2 separate regions of the Homo sapiens genome follow, and region 2 is linked to region 1. Evidence: fine-mapped expression QTL. Tissue or cell type: whole blood. Region 1 holds a variant in brackets; the other region holds the start of a gene. All regions are shown on one strand. Distances are from middle to middle.

Region 1 (8,102 bases):
AATCCCAGCACTCTGGTAGGCTGAGGTGGGCGGATCACATGAGGTCAGGAGTTCGAGACCAGCCTGGGCAACATGTTGAGCCCCTATCTCCACCAAAAAATACAAAAATTAGCTGGAAGCAAGGTGGAGTGGCTCACATCTGTAATCCCAGCACTTTGGGAGGCCGAGGTGGGTGGATCACCTGCAGTCAGGAGTTCGAGACCAGCCTGGCCAACATGGTAAAACCCTGTCTCTACAAAAATACAAAAAATTAGCCAGGCATGGTGGCGGGCACCTGTAATCCCAGCTACTTGAGGGGGCTGAGGCAGGAGAATCACGTGATGAACCCAAGAGGCAGAGGTTGCAATGAGCCGAGATCGCACCATTGCACTCCAGCCTGGGCAACAACAGAGAAACTCCATCTCAAAAATAAATAAATAAATATAAAAATAAAAATTAGCCAGGCGCGGGCATGCCTGTGCTCCCAACTACTCAGGAGGCTGAGGCCGGAGAATCGCTTGAACCCGGGAGGCAAAGGTTGCAGTGAGCCGAGATCGTGCCACTGCATTCCAGCCTGGGCAAGAGAGTGAGACTCTATCTCAAAAAAAAAAAAAAATTATTTGGGAAAATATAACAATCAGGAAACTTCTGAAAAAGATAAGTGACCAAGATGACTTGTCCCACCTGCCGTATGGGAGTACATTGATCCAAGCTGTGCATTTTCTACCATTTTCACATCGTTGAGATTGGGTTATTTCTTACAGTCAATGGTGTGTGTTAATTTAATTGGTGTTTTCTTAATGTGCACAAAATTGGTGCCTTTGTAATTGCATGTTGATGAGACTATGGCGTAAAGTTATAATTAATACATTGTGAGATTGGCATAGTAATAGAATCTAGGTAAGAAATAGACTGAGTGCATCTGGGAATTTTGCTGTGATAAAGGTACCATATTAAATCTGGGACAAAGAGCCGTTTAGAAAAAAAAAGCCAATTCTTTAGTCCTTACACCAAAATAAATTAGACATGTCATATATTTAAGGTTAAGAAAGGCAAATCATATAAAAGGAAATGAAAACGATTTAATCTTGGGATGAAGAAGGGCTTTCTAAGCATGAAACAAAAGCTTCAAGTGGTAATTAAATAGTTGATTGATTTGGTGCAACCATGTCTCATGTTGTCTGAGACATCCTTCACTGGAGAGTGACCACTGTTTTGTGTTCCACTAAGGGATAAATGCTGCCGGGGAGGTTTTTGTCCCTCATCCTAAGATACACCCTGATCTCAAAGATGTTGAAATGGAGGGAAAGTGCGTCTTGGAATGGGTGAAATACAGAAAAATACGCTTACTTACAACCAAAAATCTAAAAACCACCCAAAACTACTTGAACATGGGAAGCAAGCATTGTCACGGTGGGTTAGTTGCAGGACAGTTTTGGCAAAACTGGGGTGGCCTTGCTGCTGCCACTGCAACTGCTACTCTAGTTTTTGGCGGTTTACCCTGAGGGGGTTACGAGGATGCTGCTGGTGGTGGTGGACGAGAGGCAGGAGCCGGCGCTGGGGCCGGGTGGTCTGCAGACTCTCGTCCTCTCCTGCGCCTCCTCACGTCGGTTAGAGCCATCGGCCCTCCTCTGTCCCCTGGTACTTTCAAGTGCTTATCATAATGTAGAGAGGTAGATTTGTGTCCCTAACTCCCCAGTGTGCCTTCCCTACAATGCAGCTTCTCTCCAGAGCGGGGTGCCTCCTGCTCATGTGGGCTGGCAGCACCACTGAGGGCCTGGGGCTGGCCCAGTCCCTGCCCACTGTCTAGTGGGGCGACAGTACACAAGCAATGGCTGTAAAGGTCAGCATGTCCTGGCTAGGGAGGGGCTGGGGCGTCCCCGCCAAGGGCACCTAATCCAGAACAATTCCTAAGGATGAGCGACAGGGAGGATGTTTTTGTCATGAGCACAGGAAAACCACTGTGTTAGTCTGTTCTCCCACTGCTATAAAGAAATACCCAAGACTGGGTAATTTGTAGGAAAAGAGGTTTGATTGGCTCACAGTTCTGCAGGCTGTACAGGAAGTGTGGTGCTAGCATCTGCTTCTGGGGAGGCCTCAGGAAGCTTTTACTCATGACGGAAGGTGAAGCAGGAACAGGCTTCAGATAGTGGATGCAGGAGAAAGAGAGGGGGCGGAAGGGGAAAGTGCCACACACTTCTAAACAACCAGATCTCGGGTGAACTCAGAGCCAGAGCTCACTCATCACCCAAGGGATGGCCCAGGCTGTTCATGAGAACTCTGGCCCCGTGAGCCGGACACCTCCCACTAGACCCCCACCTTCAGCATTGGGGATTATAATTCAACATGAAATTTGAGGGGGGACAAATATCCAAACTGTATCAACCACATACAGTGTGGTCATGAGTACACTGGAAAAACCTGAGAAGGTGCACCCCAAAATGTTAGGGAATGACATTGCTGAGCAATTACTGCACACCCGATGCTGAATAAAGTCCTTTGCAGTTATTAATTCATGTGCTCCTCACAGTAACCTTCCAAGTAAGTACTCTCACTGCCCAGTGACCTTCCAAGTACTGTCACTGTGCCCGCATAGGACGGAGACGCCTGACACCCACAGGGCGGGTGCTTGGCCTTGGCACGCCCCGGCCAGCGGTGGGCAGCTTCTCTTGATGCCACACTGCCTGCAGGGTCATGAGTTATTTCAATTTTCTTTTTTTTTTTTTTTTGTTTTATATTGGAGTTGTCTATCGTGAATATATATGGTGTAATTTCAAACTGGTTTAAAAAAACAAGGCAAGTCGGGCAGCATCCACAGGACTGCAGCTCGTGCCTCAGGCTCAGGCTCAGCCCCGGCGCCTCCTGGCGGAGTGGGGCCCTGGGGCTCTCCCAGGCTGCTCTTTGGCTGCGGCTTCTGTTCCAGCTGCAGCCATGTGGCTCTTGTGTCCCACCTGTCATCTTGAGACTCGTCCAGCTCTTGAAACCACAGTTGGTGCTGAGCTGCTGCAGCACTCCAGGTATGGAGGGAGGAGTGGTTCTCAAAAGACTGTTTCTCTTCTCCATAGGAACAGAGCTATAGAGTATTTGTCCTTTCTTGCACTGCTATAAAGAAATACCTGCCAGGCACGGTGGCTCACACCTGTAATCCCAGCACTTTAGGAGGCCGAGGCATGCAGATTACTTGAGGTCAGGAGTTCGAGACCAGCCTGGCCAACATGGTGAAACCCTGTCTCTACTAAAAATGTAAAAATTAGCAGGCGTGGTGGCATGAGCCTATAATCCCAGCTACTTAGGAGGCTGAGGCAGGAGAATCACTTGAACCCAGGAGGCGGACATTGCAGTGAGCTGCGATCATGCCACTACACTCCAGTCTGGGCGACAGAGTAAGATTCTCTCAAAAAAAAAAAAAAAAAAAGAAAAAAAAATACCTGAGACTGGGTAATTTATAAAGAAAAGAGGTTTGACTCACGGTTCCCTAGACTGTACTGGTAACATGGCTGGGGAGGCCTCAGGAAACAAAATCATGGCAGAAGGCGAAGGGGAAGCCCGCACATCTTACATGGCTGGAGCAGGAGGAAGACAGAAGGGGGAGGTGCCACACTCCTTTAAACAACCAGAGAACTCACTAGCACAAGAGCAGCAGGGGGCCGTTCACCCCCAGGATCCAATCGTCTCCCACCAGGCCCCTCCCCCAACACTGGGGATTCCAATTCCACGTGACACTTAGGTGGGGCAAAGAGCCAAACCATATCAAGCATCATCTGCTGCCTGTTTTTATGGCCAAAGAACTCGAGTGATCTGGATCTTTGGATTGCTGACCTTTAAATAACTCGGACTGTTGTTCTGTGATGGAATCTGGGGGATGGTGGTGGTTGGCAGGAAACACTAATAACCTGTAATCAATCATCTCTCCCCTCTTCTAACACCTGTGATTATTCCTGTGTAGGCAAGAAAAGGTGTACTATATAAGGTATTCTCAGTTATCCTTTAAAAAGACTAATAAAATATGTTAAAATGTTATCTCTCGAGGGGCTCCTGGTGATTTCGAATTTCTTTGTCATATATTTTTCTGTACTATAAAAATCTTGAGTGTGCATCCCTTCAAAACCAGAAATGTACTATTTTTAAAAAATTAGTACATAGAACTTAGCATCTGAGTGATGACAGTTATATTTTAAAAGTGAAATCGGCCATGCGTGGTAGCTCACGCCTGTAATCTCAGCACTTTGGGAGGCCGTGGCAGGTAGATCACCTGAGGTCAGGAGTTCAAGACCAGCTTGGCCAACATGGTGAAACCCCGTATCTACTAAAGAAAAACACAAAAATTAGCTGGGTGTGGTGGTGAGTGCCTGTCATCCCAGCTACTCAGGAGGCTGAAGCAGGAGAATCACTTGAATTCAGGAGGCGGAGGCTGTAGTGAGCTGAGATCGCGCCACTGCTCTCCAACCTGGGCGACGAGTGAAACTCCATCTCAAAAAATAAAAAATGAAAGTGAACTTAAAGGCCAGGCACAGTGGCTCACACATGTAATTCCAGCATTTAGGCTGAGGCAGTTGGATTGCCTGAGCTCAGGAGTTCCATCCCAGGCTGGGCAACATGGCAAAACCCCATCTCTACCAAAAATACAAAAAGTTAGCCGGGCATCATGGTACCCACCTGTGGTCCCAGCTACTCAGGAGAATGAGGTGGGAGGACCACTTGAGCCTGGGAGGTAGAGGTTGCAGTGAGCCAAGATCACGCACCACTGTACTCTAGCCTGACAGAGTGAGACCCTGTCTCCAAAAAAAAAAAAGAAAAGAAAAAAAAAAGTGAACTTAAAGCTGAAAGAAAACGCACAGAAGTCTTGGTGGGGGCTACCCAGAGTAGGTGGACCATATGGTTTTATTTTCTGTATATTTAGGGATCTTTTTACCATTTTTTTTTTTACAATGAGCATGTATTTCTATCACTTTAAACATGAAAATGCATTAAAATTTTTTTGTTGAAAATAGAGCTCTCTTGTCCTGCTTGTGGGGACAGCCCTGTGAAATATCTTTAGTTCTTATTTAATTGCATTTTACTGGACACAGTCATGCCTACTTCTTTACATTAGTTTCCT[G/A]TTTCCTGCTGTAACAAGTCATCACAAATGTAGTGGCTTAAAATAGCACACAATTACCATTTTGCATTTCTGGAGGTTAGAAGTCCAACACAGCTCTCGGGGCTAAAATCAAGAAGTCGGGGCGGAAGGGCTGTGTGCCCTTCCAGAGGCCTCAGAGAGAAGCTGCTTCCTCCCCTTTTCCAGCTTCTAGAGGTCACCAACATTCCCAGGATCGTGGCCCTGTTCCTCCATCTTCAGCAGCAGCAATGTGGAATCTCTCTGATCGATCTTTCTGTAGCTTCGTCTCCTCTGACCACAGCAGGGAATGCTTTGCCATGCTTTAAGACCCATGTGATTAGGCGGACCCTCCTCCTCGGATGACCCTGGATAAACTCCCCATCTCAAAGCCCTTAATTATGTCTGTAGAGTCCCTCTTGCCACATCAGGTGCTATACTCACAGGTTCTGGGGTTAGGCTGTGGGCACTGGGCATCTTTGGGGAGCCATTATTCTGCCTGCCACATTCTCCAGCGACACACTGATGAAGCACCTGCCCAGGTAAGTGCTATTCCTACCTCATACTCCCCAGTGAGTGGGGTTAGCCCTGCGCAGTGAGTGGGGTTAGCCCTGCCCAGGAAGCAGGGTCTGATGCGGCTGAGCTGGTTACAGGCCTTGCAGACTGCGTGGCCACCACGGTGACCCAGCACCCACCATCCACCCAGTCTCCTGCGTCGCTGTTCTGGAAGCTCTGCCGCGGTGCTGGATGGCTTCACCCGATTTCAGCATTCGGAAGCTCCCCTAGAGGTCCCTCATTCTGCCCCATCCCTGCCCCAGCTCTTGCTATTGTTTGCCTTTATCCCTTTTTCCTACAGGAAGAACCAGATTCAAACATTTGCCTGCTGGCAATAGTGTTTCTGAGGAAGACACTGTGAGGGGAACTGCGGGCCGAGCCTGCTCTGAGCGCAAGATAGTAGGAGAGCTCTCTGGCACACAGCTGCCTACTCTGTCCCTACTCTCCCCTGGGAGAGAATCCCTGGTGTAGACTTAGTCCTAATCCTCAGAAGAGCTCCCCCAGTGTGTGATGTGGCTCTGCCAAAGATCGTGAGAAAGTGGAGATCCAAAAACAAGTATTCTCTGGGCAGCACAAGCCAGATAAAGTTGTTCTCAAGTTGGCTCTGGCTGGGTTTGTGGAGGGCACAGAGGCTTTGACATGTGAGCTTGTAAAGATGCTTTCTTTCCCATCCCAGGGAGCTGCCCAAACCTTCCTCGCTGCTGAGGCCGTGTCCTCAGCCCAGTGGAGCAGCAGCAGTGGCCACTGCCTGCGTGACCCTGCTGAGACCTGTGCTCGTAGTCAGATGGGATGTTCTGAACTCCTGGAAGCCAGAGGTTATAGTTTTTTAAAGACTAAAAAAGGAATATTGTATTGTGTAAAACAGAAAAGGAAGGGAAGCACTCATTCTCCCATTCCCTTATTGATCAATTTGGGCTTGTTCCTGTCTCTAAAATCTGCATGTGTTTTATACTGGAAGACCCTGGAGCGCAGGCTTTCATTCCATGCAAATGTACCTGCTCTGTACCAGGCACTGTTCCAGATGCCCCGGCTGCAGCCATTAAAGCAAAGATTCAGGAATTTGCATTTGTGTGGAGTCATTAGACAAGCAACGAGATGAGAGTGCCTGTGAGGTGATCAAGTGCTGGTTACAGAGAAACTTGGAGGAGAAGTCGGGTGCTGCCTTCCAGTGCTCAGGCAGGGTGCGCAGAGAAGGGGATGCCTGAGCAGAGACCTGGCAGAGATCAGGGCTGAGACACCTGCCCGGCTGTGGACAGAGCTCCAGGTGCTGTCTGGCCCAGGGCCCAGTGGAAGCACCTGGCCCTGCAAAGAGGCTCCAGCCACCAGGATGGCTGAGAGAACTTGGGTGGGTGAGGCAGGAGCCAAGGCCAGGGAAGAAGTGGAGGGCCGGTCAGGTGGGGCACAGAAGGCACTGGTGATTGCTTTGACTTCTCAGCAGAGGTGTGAGCCATTGAGGGGCTGCCAGCTCAGGGTGATAAGGTCTGGCTGACTAGGGAAGGAGGAAGGCAAAAGAGGTGGCTGTGGCCCAGTGGGGAGGTGTGCAGGGGCTCTAGATCTGGGTGTATTTTGACAGTGGAGCTGCTATGATGTCCTGACAGAGTGAATGTGGAGTTAAGAGAAAGAGGGGTCAAGAATGATAAAGTTTTGGCCTGAGCCAAGGTGTGGAGTTGAGGTAGAAGGTGGGACTTGACTCCGGAGGCAGGGCTCAGACACCGGGCCAAACTGAGGACTAGCTAAAACAGGTTATAGGGGAAGCAGTTTTCCAGAAAACACACCCATCAGTGTGCCATGTCAGTTTACCATTGCCATGGCGACACCCAAAAATTATTGCGCCTTTCCATGGCAATGACCCAGTGATCAGGAAGTTACCACCCTCATCCTAGAAATTTCTGCATAAACCACCCCCTAATTCATGTATAATTAAAAGTGGGTGTAAATATTAGTGCAGCCCTAAATCTGAGCTGCTCCTCTGGACACACTTCCTGGAGAGTGCCCTGTACCGCAAGGAGCAGTGCCTCTGCTGCTCCTGGATGCTGTGGCTTCAATACAAGTTGCTGTTGAACACCACTGGGTAGCTCTTGAATTCTTTCCTGGGGGAAGCCAAGAACCCTTCCGGGCTAAGTCCCAATTTTGGGCTTCACCTGTCATGCATCAGAGTTGCCATCTGGTTGTATCTAAATTGTTTTATCTCTGTGCCTGTGAATGACACAATGCTGTTGTTTCTCCTTTATTGGGGATTAGGGAAAGCAGAAAGGTGGAAGAAGGAGATGAGAGCCTCATCCAGAGCTGCAGGGCCAGGCTGAGGGCCAGGGTGCCTGGGTTCCCTAACAATGCACACCCCTCCCTTTAAATTTCCTATTTTGTGGGCACAATGGTTCACACCTGTAATCCCAACACTTTGGGAGGCTGAGGCAGGAGGATTGCTTGAGCCCAGGAGTTCGAGATCAGCCTGGGCAACATAAGGAGACTCCATGTC
Region 2 (8,102 bases), 38 kb before region 1:
TCATAAATTCTTGGAAACTGCCACTTTAAGCAAAACAATGGACAGCAATTTCTCAAATACAGTTGTTTATTGTAACGCTGATGGGGGGAGGAAAACTTGTTTTTTTATACATCATCTTTCCTCTTAAAGTCAGTTTCCATGAAGCCACTGTGGATGTTCAGTGAGGTCTTATTGTATTATAAATGCAAATGGCCAAAACTGGGTAGGAGCCAGAAAAATGTTCTAAGAAACTAGTTCAGCAATAAGAAACTAGTTCATCAATACAACCGTAAAAGACAACACATCTATTACCTTTAGAAAAAATGCTCAACAGAAGCTAAACCGAGTGTGACTATTCATATGACCTATATTAAGCTATTATTTTATTTAAAAAAGATAGTTCTTCAAGTTGATAAAACACTAAGAAATATTTTTAAAGCAAAAAGACTGTCAGCTTCTTATGGAAGGAAAACTACATTTGTTAAATCACATTATCGTAAGTTAGACAAAGATCATATTCATATTTTAGGAGTAGATTCCATTCTTTCATGGCTAAAGTTTAATCTAGAAATACATTTTCCCCACAAACTATCTAGTTTCTCCAGAATTAACATCTTTCTCACCAAACAATAGTGTTTCTACTATACCAGCATGCTGGATGATCTATGAAGAGTTTATACTGTGTATCACATTTACTGACTCGGTAAGATCACACTGTCATATCATGATGTATTTATTAATTTCTCACACTCCCATTTTGAATTCCTGAGATTACCTGTCAGGATTTAAAAAATAGAACAGGCTGAGTGCAGCTCATGCGTGTAATCCCAGCACTACAGAGGCCGAGAAGGGAGGATCACTTGAGGCCAGGAGTTCAAGACCAGCCTGGGCAACATAGCGAGACCCTGTCTCTTAAAAAAAAAAAAAAGAGGTTTTTAATTAGTTGCTTGTGGTGGCACATGCCTGCAATCCCAAGCACTCTGGGAGGCTAAGGCAGGAGGATTGCTTGAACCCAGGAGTTCCAGGCTGCAGTGAGATATGACAGCACTGCAGCACTTCAGACTGTGCTACAGATGGTCTCTTAAAAATAATAATATAAAAACATTGTTTCTCCCCCAGATTGGTAACATTTTATCCTCCAAATAATCAGAAAAGTTGAGAGCTTTCCAAGTCTCAAGGGGTGATGGGGGAGGAAACAAGACTTTTGAGAGACCATAAAAAAATCTGTGTGATGTCTGAATACTGCCATAAAAGGAAAAATAAGCCCTCAAAACTTGTGAATACCAACATTTAAAACAATGGGGCTATGTCAAATGAACTCAAATTCTTTCCTACTTAAACTGTACAAACTAGCTGTAACTATCAACTTACAAATTTTGTTTCTGAATCTGTACCTAAGAAGCTTATTTCCCCTCTTAAATGTGTAACTTCTTTTGTTTTTTCTTCTTGCTCAATCTTCTGGGCATTCAGAATATGTAACTTATTTCTGACACAGCACAAATGACCCACTTATGGCTTCAACTTTCTGAAAGTCGGTCGTTTTTAGAAAAATGATCATTCTTTAGCCAGTCTACCTACCACTGAAGTAGTTCCATCTCCAACTTCTTTGTCTTGCAGATCAGCCAGCTCACAAAGAACTTTAGCTGCAGGATGTTCTACCTCCAGTAACTTCAGGATGGTTGCACCATCGTTAGTAATGGTTACATCCTAAGAAATTCGCAGGAAAAAATATGAACCACTTATAGAAATCAACACAGCCCCATTATAATACACGTTCACCTTTAATATCACCTTCCAGTACGTGGATTCTGATAAAGTCAAAGAAAGAACATAGCAAAACACTGAAGATAGTTTTACTTTAAGGAAACTAACACAACAGTTATGTGTACTTACACCAATATCATCCACCAACATTTTATCCAAGCCAACTGGACCAAGAGAACTTTTTACAATATTGGCAATCGAAGCTGCAGCCATAACTGTAGACAATCAATTAAAAATAAAAAAGAAATGAGGATAAGCCACAACTCTGAAAGACAGTAATTTCAGCCTAAAGGTAAATGACATCCAACAGCCCCCGTATTTCCCAAATCTACAAATCTGTGTTAATTATTTAAAAACCACCTACTAAGAGTGTAAATGGGGCCAGACACTGTGGCTCACAGGTGTAATCCCAACACTGCGAGGCCGAGGCAGGAGGATCGCTTGATGCCAGGAGTTTGAGACCCCTTTGGGCAACATAGCGAAACCCATTTCTACAAAAAATAAAAACAAAGCCGGATGCGGCGGCGCGGACCTGTGCTTGGAGAATGCAGTGAGCTATGATGGCACTCTCGTCTGGGCGACAGGTGGGACCCTGTCCCTAAACAAAGCGAGCCTATTTGGCACAGCTTTGATGCGGGGTGGAATCTGATGGCGGGGAAAAAAAAAAAAAGTAATAACCACCAATTTCATGCTCTGCCACTTCGTACAGCTATACCAGCCTTTTCCTTCAGATTCTGCAAGTTTTTTGCTCATTAAAACTCTCTTTATCTGTGAGGAGAGAAATCGGTAGTCAACGGGGAAGGTGGTGACTTTCAGATTTGTTTACGAAAAAAATTAGGAATCTATCAAGAAACAGTAAGCTCTGTAGGTATCCAAAGGCCTGACAGCAAACGCTCTGCTAAGTTAGCGCTGCCGTCTCCTGGGGTCAATGCACTCGAGTGGCGTTTCCTGGGCTAACTCTACTGTAAGAAGCTGTCAACCCGGATACGGCTGGACGCCGGACGCCCGACCTCGACTGCAGCTGCGGGCGGACAGGGCACCGGGCTCATCCGAGGGCGCGCGGATGGACCTACTCTTTTTCTGGTAAATGGTCCTAAAATAAAACCTGGCGTTTAACATGGACACTCAGGGGGTCGCCCTGAAACAAAAGGGGGTGCGAGGCGTGGCCCGCACGTGCGAGCCCGGGAGGCCCGCTTTCCCGCGGAGGGCGCGTTTCCAACGCCGCCCCGGACACCACATCCACGCGTTGCCGGTCTCAAAACCCTGCCGCGCGCGGCGGGGCTCCTCCTCGCTGTGGGAAAAGTGGGGCCACAGCGCCCTGCCCCAGAGAACGGCGGGTGGGCTGGGTCCGGCTGCGGGGCCCCGAGGCCCTTTCTGCGGAGGTAAAGGAGAGAAACGAGGGCAGCCGGGGTCCGGTCGCGGTGGGACTCGGCCCTCCCCGGCCGCAAACCCGACCCAGGCCCGGCCCGCCCTTACCGTTTTGGGAGCGGATCGTTTCCCCAGTGCTGCGGTCACCGAACACGGACAAAGGCCCCTCCATCTTGACGGCAGCGATACACGTCGAATTCTGCTTACACCGCGGGCAACCAGTATCGCGGCCCCTCGGCCGACCGGCGACCACAGCAGTGGCTGCGACGGCGTGGAGCGTACCCGAGCGATGTCCCAGGAGCTACTGGGTAACACACCACCCCACCCGCTTCCCGGCTGCCCCGGCCCGGCCGCGGGGCACGGCGGGAAGGAAAAAGAGGCAGGGACAACAGGGAGAGAAACAGGACTGTGACGGAAGTGAGGCTCCGGGGAAGGGGCGGGGTCGGCATTTTTGTCCAATTAGATAGCCGATGGGAAGGGCGCGAAAGCGGAGAACGGAAGTCGGATGTTGGACCGCTGGGAAGAGGTTGAACCTTCGCCTCAAACGATGTTGCGCAGACGCAGTGGGCCATTCTAGTGCCTTCTAGAAAAGGTTGTAAGAAGGGTGGAGCTTGGAGCTGGGGTGTAACTGGAGGGGCGGGCCCTTCTCCAAGTTAGAGTTGGGGTTCTGAGCGAGTCGTGCGTTTTAGGTTTAGTGTCTTTTCCTTGTCCCTGCTCGGGGAGCGTGAGGCAGATCGGCCGGCTTTGCTCCAGGCCTCAGGAGTGTAAGTTTAAGGGCGCGAACCTGGGTGGGACGGGGCAGTTTTTCCAGCGGGCCATACGGGAAAATTTTTGGTTCGAGGAAGACAACCACCCTTTTTAAGGAGAAAACTGCATCTTGCCCTGCCTTATTCCTACGCGGTGCCCAGGTGGGGTGTGTGTGGACCAGTCGATGACCGCCCAAGCTCTCCGAGTAGAAAACCCAAACATGGTTTTGTGGGGTGTGTGCCTTTGACCCCGGACTTAAGCAACAAGCGTGGTCTTGGGCGTAGCTACGAGGTGGTTGGTGGGCTCCAGGGCCTGCGTGCCCCTCGACGTGAGCGATGATTGGCGATGAAGGATAACAGATCGCCTTCTCGGCCACTCAGTGGCAGGGGACTTGCTACTTCCGGGTCGGTGGCGTCTGGCGTGGAGAGTTTGGGGATCTACAGCAGCCAAAGGCTTGTCCCTGACTTTATATGGCTGCTCCTGGCGAGCGACTGAGTCGTCCGTGAGGAAAAAGAGGCGAGGCTTTTCCGAGATCGTCTCAGCGATGGCGCTTCGGTCGCGGTTTTGGGGGTTGTTCTCGGTTTGCAGGAACCCTGGTAATTAGTCTTGCCCCCCTTCTCCCAGCTCACTCGCCTGGGCTTGCACAGTACATTGGAACGTGCGGGTTCTATTTTGTATTCGACGTGCCGGATCGAAATAGAGCTCGCGGCACTGCGAAGACCACAGTAGGAAGTTAAGGACGGGGTCAGTGCTGACTCCACCCTGTGGGCATACGTATTTTTCGTCCCCTCGGGCCTAAAGATTGGGGGTGTAAAAGCGGATAGACGTTAGAGCGGGTTCGTGCGCTGTCCATATCCGTCATTTTTAAGCCCTGTGCGGTTTTTCCCGTTGCCCAGGGTGCAGGTTCGCAGCCCTGTCAACCAGCTCCGAGCCGGCAGCGAAACCTGAAGTGGACCCTGTGGAAAATGAAGCTGTCGCCCCAGAATTCACCAACCGGAACCCCCGGAACCTGGAGCTTTTATCTGTAGCCAGGAAAGAGCGGGGCTGGCGGACGGTGTTTCCCTCCCGTGAGTTCTGGCACAGGTAATTAAATCTGCTTGTGATTGACAAGGGCAGTGCACCCTACAGACTATTTTCATTCATTCAACTCCAGGCACTCTCCCAGGTAGCTGCCATGCGGCGGGTAGAGGCAGGGTTCGCGGAGGGGCTGGAACAAACAACAAATAGGTGTGATGGGGGCTATTTAAAGAGGATGTTACAGTAGCGGACAGGATACCTGCCTGTCTGAGGTGACATTTAAGAAGGTGAGATCTGAAAGAGGAAGAAGCCTAGTCATCTGCCAGAAAGAGCAGTCCTAGCAAAGGAAACTGCTGGGGTGAGGAACTGAAGGGCTTGTGGATCTGAAGCTCAATGGGCAGAGGATGAATGGCCCAAGATGAACATGGAGGGGTAAGGAGGCGACAGATGATTAGCTTTGTAAGTCAAGATGAGCACTTTAGACTTTCTTTTCATTATAGTGGGAAACTACGAGAGGATTTAAAGCTTGAGCCCGAATTGGTTTTTCAAGATCATTCTGGCTGGGCGCATTGTCTCATGCCTGTAATCCCAGCACTTTAGGGAGCCAGCCGAAGAAGCCGGATCATCTGAGGTCAGGAGTTTGAGACCAACCTGGCCAACATGGTGAAACCCCGTCTCTACTAAAAATATAAAAATTAGAGGGGCGTGGTGGTGCACGCCTGTAATCCCAGCTACTCCAGTGGCTGAGGCACGAGAATCACTTGAACCCAGGAGGCGGAGGTTGCAGTGAGCTGAGCGCCTGGGCGACAGAGCAAAATTCTGTCTCAAAAAAAAAAAAATCATTTTAGCTGCTTTTTGGAAGATTAAATTTTTGAGGGAGCAGGACTTGAAGAAAGACCAGTTAGGAGTCTAGTATGACTTGAGATACTTTGTTATAAAGGTGGTTGTTTAATGAACACTTACATTTGCCAGGAATTATGCTACTTGCTTTATATGTTTTTTCTCATTTAATCCTTAAAATTACATCATGAAGCAGTTATAATTTCCCCCATTTTACAGGATCAAAGAAATTGAGGTTTAGGGAGACATGATTAGTAAGTGCCAGAGCTAAGATTTACATATGTTTTAACTGACCTCAGAGCCAGGACGCTAGGTTATTACCACTATACTACAGCATGTAAGTGTTTATCAGGTTTATCTGCTGCTTATCTGCTTGGTGAGGATTTTTTAGAATTTCTTAAGGACTTCTTAAGTACTATGTAAAGTTGTAAGAGTAAATTGGAAATCATTACTGTGTGATGTATTATTTATTTATTGAACAAGCATCATACCTGTATCACTTGCTAGGCATTGCGTTAGAGGCAGGAGTTACAAAGATAAAGTAGATGTTATCCCTGTCATCAAAAGTCTTAAGTTTCATAGTGGAAAGTGGAATGGGGATAATGATGTGTTACAGTTGCTGTAATACATTTTTACTCATAGAGGAGGGAGTCCAAGAAAGGGAGTAGGCAGTTCACTTTTTAAATAATCTGGATCTTAAGGCTAAAAATCTTTTGAAACACCCAACCTATTACTTTCTTTTTTCTTTGTTTTTGAGACAGGGTCTGGGTCTGTTGCCCAGGCTAGAATGCAGTGGTATGATATCTGCTTACTGCATCCTTGACTTCCCTGGGCTCCAGCAATCTTCCCACCTCAGCCTCCTGAGTGGCTGGGACTAGAGGCGCATGCCATTACTCCCAGCTAATTTGTTTTGTTTTGTTTGAGACAAGCTCTGGCTCTATCACCCAGGCTGGAGTGCAGTGGTACAGTATCAGCTGGCTGCAACCTCTGCCTCCCAGGCTCAAACGATTCTCCCATCTCAGCTTCCTGAGCATCTGGGACTGCAGGCACACACTACCATGGCCGGCTAATTTTTTTCTTTTTCTTTTTTTTTTTTTCTGGTATTTTTTGTAGAGATGGGGTTTTGCTGCTGCCCAGGCTGGTCTCGAGCTCTTGAGCTCGAGAGATCTGCCTGATTCAGCCTCCCAAGGTGCTGGGATTACAGACGTGAGCCACTGCACTCGGCCCCAACGCATTACTTTGATTTAATATTTGGATCATTAAAAATAACTAAAGATGTATTTCCTCATTTTTTCTCTGTCTGCCTTACTCGCAATATTAAAAGTAGAGAATTTCAGAATATTATAGTAGGAAATGACCTTTGACATAATGAATCGGGCCCTTCATTGAACAAATGGTTCAAGTGTCAGCAAACTACGGCCCGTGGGCCAAAGGTAGATTGTGAGCTAAAAACTTGTTTTTACTTTTTTTAAGTTAAAAAAAAAATCAAAAGAATATTTTGTGGCTTGGGAAAATTAAATGAAAATCAAATTTCGTTGCCCAGGTTCTTAGAACCTAGCTGTACCTACTCTCATTTGTTTACGCATCACCTGGCTGTTCTAGCACTACAATGGCTGAGTCGAACAGTTTCAACAGAAGCTATTGGACCTAGAAAGCCTAAAATATTTACTATCTGGCACTTTGTGGAAAAAGATTGTTGACTCCTGGTTTAACAGATTGTGATTTTTGGCCGGGCGCGGTGGCTCACGTTTGTAATCCCAGCACTTTGGGAGGTCGAGGCGGGCGGATCACGAGGTCAGGAGATCAAGACCATCCTGGCTAACACGGTGAAACCCCGTCTCTACTAAAAATACACAAAAAAATTAGCCAGGCGTGGTGGCAGGCACCTGTAGTCCCAGCTACTAGGGAGGCTGAGACAGGAGAGTGGCGTGAACCTGGGAGGCGGAGCTTGCAGTGAGCCGAGATCGCGCCACTGCACTCCAGCCTGGGCAACAGACTGAGACTCCGTCTCAAAAAAAAAAAAAGAGATTGTGATTTTTTACTAGAGCCACCAGGAAAACCAGGAGTAGACTCCATATTTCCAAATCTAATGCCTCTTCTATTTCACATTGAGAATCCTAGTGAGAATCTAATGATTTGGGTGTGTTTTCTTTAACTTAAACTTGACTTTTTAAAGGGTAACATATACGTATGTTATAAAATCCAAAGGGAGTACAGTTTCTTGTGTGTCCTTCTAAAGATTGTCTATGCATATAAGCAAAAACTGTTAAAAACAATAAATCTTAGCATACGATAAACACTTCCGCATCTTTCTTCACCACCACCCTCAACCACCCCAAGCACGCACTTAAAAATACATCTTGGAGATTCTTCATGGTAGTTAAGAG

Evidence for each region. PIP is the estimated chance that this variant, and not a neighbour inherited with it, causes the effect.
Region 2: it holds the start of MRPL18, and the variant in region 1 is fine-mapped to the expression of MRPL18 in whole blood (TOPMed, PIP above 0.99). The same link has a PIP of 0.9 or more in blood mononuclear cells.

The regions. Positions count from the first base shown.
Region 1 is chr6:159,824,598-159,832,699 of GRCh38, forward strand. No RefSeq gene overlaps it. Among named protein-coding and RNA genes, the nearest start is that of PNLDC1, 28 kb to the left of the region's middle. RefSeq lists an enhancer at 5,908-6,641. The variant G/A (reference allele first, on the strand shown) is at 5,078.
Region 2 is chr6:159,786,186-159,794,287 of GRCh38, forward strand. MRPL18 (mitochondrial ribosomal protein L18) reads left to right here and starts at 4,282. Exons shown (of 4, transcript NM_014161.5): 1 at 4,282-4,454; 2 at 4,755-4,941. The coding sequence starts at 4,403. It overlaps TCP1 (t-complex 1), which reads right to left and starts at 3,417. Exons shown (of 12, transcript NM_030752.3): 1 at 3,220-3,417; 2 at 1,873-1,958; 3 at 1,558-1,686. The coding sequence starts at 3,283. RefSeq lists enhancers at 2,615-3,279, 3,280-3,943, 4,200-4,379, 4,410-4,469.